Linked DNA regions of Homo sapiens: region 2 is linked to region 1. Evidence: fine-mapped QTL for protein levels in blood plasma. A gene starts in region 1. The other region holds a variant in brackets. All regions are shown on one strand. Distances are from middle to middle.

What was found. PIP is the chance, under the fine-mapping model, that this variant and not a neighbour inherited with it causes the effect. Protein levels are from the aptamer-based SomaScan assay of Sun 2018.
Region 2: its variant is fine-mapped to the plasma level of the ART3 protein (Sun 2018, PIP 0.95).

The regions. Positions count from the first base shown.
Region 1 is chr4:76,072,982-76,075,911 of GRCh38, forward strand. ART3 (ADP-ribosyltransferase 3 (inactive)) reads left to right here and starts at 1,728. Exons shown (of 12, transcript NM_001130016.3): 1 at 1,728-1,838; 2 at 2,900-2,930. The coding sequence starts at 2,909.
Region 2 is chr4:76,107,932-76,110,861 of GRCh38, forward strand. The region is part of intron 11 of ART3 (ADP-ribosyltransferase 3 (inactive)); the gene reads left to right. Among named protein-coding and RNA genes, the nearest start is that of ART3, 35 kb to the left of the region's middle. The variant CT/C (reference allele first, on the strand shown) is at 1,314.

The DNA of each region.
Region 1 (2,930 bases):
CTAGTCTCCTTTGTGCTACTTATAAACAAAAGCCAAAACCATAGCACTCACTACATTCTAACATACTTGCATAATTTACGTACTTATTTTAGTTATTTGACTGCCTTCCCTCACAAGAATATAAACTTCACAAAGGCAAGATATTTATCCATTTCGTTCACTGGTATATCTCTAGTACCTAAAACAGTTCCTAGCACATTTTAAGGACTCAAATATTTGTTCAATGAATGAATGAAAGAAATTTGGTTAAAAACTGGAACAAAACAGGAATGGAGGCCAGCGACAGGAGAACTTCTCTACCTCATTTCCTGTAGGCCTACATGCTTGGAACTTAAAAGCAGGTTGTTGTGAGCCTAAGGCCTGAAGACATGCAAACTTTCTTTTTTCTTTCTAACCAAACTCCTGCTTTTTAAAAAATCATATTATTTCTGGGAGTGAGTCTGTGCTGTGTATTTAATCTTGGATTGCCAAGCCAGTGAGGTGGGAAAAGGTTGGAACATATCTCTATTCTAAAGAGTAGAGTTGGATTTTGTAAATATAGGTGTATTTCATGATAATTTAAAATGTTTTCTTGAAGTAATATATGTGTGTACAAAAAAAACACATATCATAAGTATATAGCTCACTGAATTTTCACAAACTGAATTTGTCAATGTAATTGGCATCCATAGCAAAAAGCAGAACCCAGCTAACATCTCAGATGCTCCTCTGTGCCCTTTCCAGTTACTAGCTACTACCCAGGGTGACCACTATTCTGACTTCTCATGCCTTGGAAGTGTTTTGCCTAATTTTGTTCTTGATATAAATTAAATCATACAGTATAAACATGCTTGTATCTCTTTTTTTACTCAAAATTTTGTTTGTGAGATTTATCCACATTGTTATATATGGTCAGAGTTTGTTCGTTTTCATTGCTATATAAAATTTCACTTACAGTCTAACCATTCTACTGTTGATGGATATTTGGTTTCCAGTTTGGGGGTTATTATGAATAGTGCTACTATCAACATTCTATTAATGTATTTTGGTGTATGTATGCGTGAATTTCTTTGGACATTTTTGTGTTTTTTAAATCCACAGTCAGTGAACCCTAAGTGTTCCTCAGCATTGCAGTCAGTATATTTACCATGTATGCGTTACTCAAATGACAGCTGTAGTTGCAGGCATTACCAAATCCTTCCCTCCTTAATGTTATCACTGGACTTTGTCTATACTTGGGATTCTTAACATGTTGTATTTTGGTTAAGTATGCGTATTCATGTTTTTTATTAGATTTTGAGTGCTTTTTAGTACTTTGTTTTACTTGCTTATGTATCCCGACTCCTGACGAGGTACCTGAAATATAGTAAGCTAGTTGAGCGAATGGTGATAGCTGTCACCATTGCCAGTGATTAACAGAGCAAGTTTCCCTAGTTATGTGAATCACTTAGCCTAGAGTAAAATCCATGCTTTAGTTTGATATCTCAGTGTCAAAGGATTAGGAATGGGAAGTCATTTCTCTCTGAGAGAAGCCCAGAACTGTGGGCTCAGAACTGAATGTGCTGTGTGGCTAAAGGGAATTGCTATGGCTTTACAAGCCTCTTGGAGATTTAAAGTGTTAACAGCAGTGATTCCAAGGCATAGTGTGGGGGGGCCAGATATAAATAGCAGAACACAAGTAGCGTAGTGTGCCACTGCCAAGCTACTGCTGGGGGTGTTTATAAAAAGAAAAGCATTCCTGTCTCAGCTCTCACTGTCAACAACATCCCATCCTGAAGACTTGCTTACCACAACTGAGAGTGGGGAGTCAGTTTGAGGCCTAGCATCACTTAAACTTCCTCCAAAGGCACAAAAGCCAGGTAAACCTTTTGACTTATTTACACTCAGACTAAAGAAATGAACAATTTTTAGGAAAATCCTGATCAAAGCTTGCTTAAAACATATTGCCTTGTGACAGATATCTATCATCTTATATTCAAATCTTTTTTGGAAAGAGAAGTTTAACACAAAGTAGCATGTTGGTACTATATTTTAGTATTTTTAGTAAAAACAAAACAAAACTGCTTCTGAAGAAATATGGGAAACTGAGGCCAAAATGATCTATAAAAGGGAAGACTTCTCCCTTCCCCTGTGCTGTTCATTCTCATTTTTAGAATCCAGAATATGGTGATTGGTAGGGTAAAATAGAAGCTTCATTTGAGTTACATTATCATAAATACTGGGATGAATATTAGGCATTCGGCCAATAGTTGTATAATCTTAGAATTGCTGCCTACCCAGTTCCTTCTTATTCTTGTTCCCGCCTTCAGAAAGTTATGTAAGACACTTATTTTACCCTCGGGCTTCTCTTGATTGTATTTGGGGGAAGGGGGCCATCTCTGACAATCCACTGCTTTGTACCACTACTGACCTCATCATCTCCTCTGTCCCACTCAAAAGGGCATGACAATGTGCAAAGAGGATAGAAGAATGGATAATGTGCATGGACATATTCCTGGGGAATTCTTAGAAACTGGGAGCTAGGGGACCAATTTGAGACTGCTGTTTTTTAGTCTGATTGTGTTATTTCCTGTGCACGCTGAGGGGAGATTTAGAGATGGGAAGAAAATATGACTCCCAGTGACTGTGGTGGGAGAGATGACATGTCTGGAGGAGTATGGAAATGCACAGATTTAATCTTGAGCAAATCACTGAAATTCTAAGGTGTTTTTGTTTCCTCGTCTGTAGAATGAGAGCATTAGACCACTAGATAAAGCCTAATGGCTCTTGTAGCCCGTTAGGAATTTATTGATAATCACTTCCTGACCATCATGCTATCCACTCACATTCTAAATGAAAAAATACGCAGTGTCATCCTATTCTACTTCCCTACACCTCTTTTTTGAGTCTACTGAATTGAAATTTCTTTATTTTAATTTAGAAGAGAAAAATGAAGACGGGACATTTTGAAA
Region 2 (2,930 bases), 35 kb after region 1:
TCCAAAAGCTTGTGTGTGCATGTGTGTGTTGGGGACAATATAGCTTTGTTTTTTCGATAATCGTTTTCCATTGTATCTAGAGTTTCTACTCTTAGAACAGTGGTTCTTACCAGTCTGAAGACTGGGAGCAAAATATAAAAATAAAAAAGAAAATATATATTAAAAAAAAAAAGAACAGTGGTTCTCAACCCAATTCTCCCTTTATAACAAGTATTTTATAAAGTCCTTATATTATCCAGAAAGAAGATCCATAGATGAGATGCATTTGTACCCATAAAAATCAACATCATGTCTAAAGTAGACCGATGTTTACATTTATGCAAATAAATTTGGGTTGAAGAGAAGATTGGAAGCTATTCTATACAGGAAGTATAAGAAAATGGAGTGAAGAAATAGAGTAGATACTAAATAAAAACTGATGTTTAATGTTTATCAAAACTATTAAAAATATACATAAAACTGCTTTAGGTTCTGAGTTTGATTATTTTAAATAGGTTTTAACTTACATGTATGTCTAGCAGTACATTTTAAAGTTGTGCAGGAAGTTGGTCAATTTTTCATGGTCCAGAACTAGAGCACTGCAGGATATCTATCCCTCTACCTCCACTCCACTGTTAGCAATGATTAAAAAAAAAAACAAAAAACTCTTGACAATCGTCCAAACTGCCTCTTGGGGCAGTAATGCCCCCCTGAGAACCACTGGTCTGTGGTAACATACAGTCATGCATTGCTTAACAAGATGGGGTATGTTCTGATTAATGTGTTAAGTGATTTTGTCGTTGTGCAAACATCATAGTGTGTACTTACCCAACCCTAGATGGTATACCCTGCTACACATGTAGGCTACATGGTATAGCCTACTGCTCCTAGGCTATAAACCTTTACAGCATGTTATTGTGTTGAGTACTGTAGGCAGCGGTAACACAGTGGTAAGTATTTGTGTATCTAAACATAGAAAAGTTATGGTAAAAATATAAAAGATAAAAAATGGTACAGGTGTATAGGGCACTTAACATGAATGGAGCTTGTAGGCCCAGAAGTTGCTCTGGGTGGTGTTGAGCGGATGTGAAGGCCTGGGACACTACTGTACACTCCTGTAGACTTTATACATACTATACAGAGGCTACACTAAATTCATAACAAATTTTCCTTCTTCAATAGTAAATTAACCGTAGCTTAATGTAACTGTTTTACTTTATAAACTTAATTTTAATCTGACTCTTTTGTAATAACACTTAGCTTAAAACACACATTGTACAGTAGTACAAAAATATTTTTTCTTTATATCCTATTCTATAAAGCTTTTTTATCAC[CT/C]TTTTTTTTAACTTTTTAAACTTTTGTTAACAACTAAGACACAAACATTTACATTAGCCTAGGCCTATACAGGGTCAGGATCATCAATATCACTGTCTTGCACCTCCACATCTTGTTCCACTGGAAGGTCTTCAGGGGTAGTAACGTGCATGGAACTGTCACCTCCTATGATAATGCCTTCTGGAGTAGCTCCTGAAGGACCTGCCTCAGGCTGTTTTATAGTTAACGTTTTTTAATAAGTTGAAGGAGTACAGTCTAAAATAATGATTAAAAGTATAGTAAGTACATAAAACAGTAACATAGTTGTTTATTATCAAATGTTATGTATTATATATAATTGTATGTGCTATACAGTTATACAACTGGCAGTGCAGTAGGTTTATTTACACCATCATCACCCCAAACACGTAATATGTTACAACGGCAACGATGTTGCTAGGCAGTAGGAAATTTTCAGCTCTATTATAATTATAGTCTTATGGGATCTCTGTCATACATGTGGTCTGTCATTGATGGAAACATCATTATGCATTGCACGACTGTACTAATGCATGTGTGCATCTGCCTATCCACTTCTCTGTGTGTATACATCCAACTGCATGTTTATAACTATGGCAAGTACATTGATAATATGAAGGCTTTTACAAATCTGACTGGCTATTTTTCTTGGTTTTATTTATGAAATCTGAGTGGTGATCCCATTTGGATACTTCCAGTCAACGCTTCCCCGTAGTTCAAACAAAAAGAGTTTAGGTCAGCATGAAACAGTTTATCCTGTGGATGGACTCCACTGCTCCTCTCCACTAGTTCAAATGAAAGGGAAAGAGTTTCTCCAGCAGTGTATGTATGGAGGGAAAAACATTTATTTTTTTTTTATCATCTTGCAGAGATTAGTGTTTAAAAAACAATGCAGCTATAGTTAGCCCTCTGTATCCTCTGGGATTCAACCAACTGTGGATCGAAAATATTTGTGGGAAAAAATAATACAAATTTAAAAACCCATACAGTACAACAACTACTTGCATTTCATTTACATTGTATTAGGTATTATAAGAAATCTAGAGATAGTATAAGGTATACAGGAGGATGTGTGTAGGTATATGCAAATACTGTGTATGCTATTTTATTTATTTATGTATGCTATTTTATATAAGGGACTTGAGCATCTGTGGATTTTGGTATCCTCAGGGGTTCTAGAACCAGTCCCCAAAGGATACTGAGGGATGACTGTATATCCAGTTGTATGTTGGTGGTTATCTTGTTTGAAATAGAAGACACACAGAGTTAAACTTTACCTTGCATGTATATACAGAAAATGGAAATAGAAAAATTGCTAAAAAAAAATGCTAGAGAACTTGAACAACAGAAAATCATTATATTGGCTATATAGAAATGTAAAAGCATGTGAAATCCTACATAAAACCTAGCGTAGCAGATCTTGATGATATATAGTCGACCCTTGAACAACACAGGTTTGAACTGCATGGGTCCACTTATACATGGATTTTTTTTAAATAAATATATTGGAAATCTTTTTGGATATTTGCATCAATTTGAAGAAACTTGCAGACAAACTGCATGACCTAGAAATATATATATATATAAAAAGAAAGTAT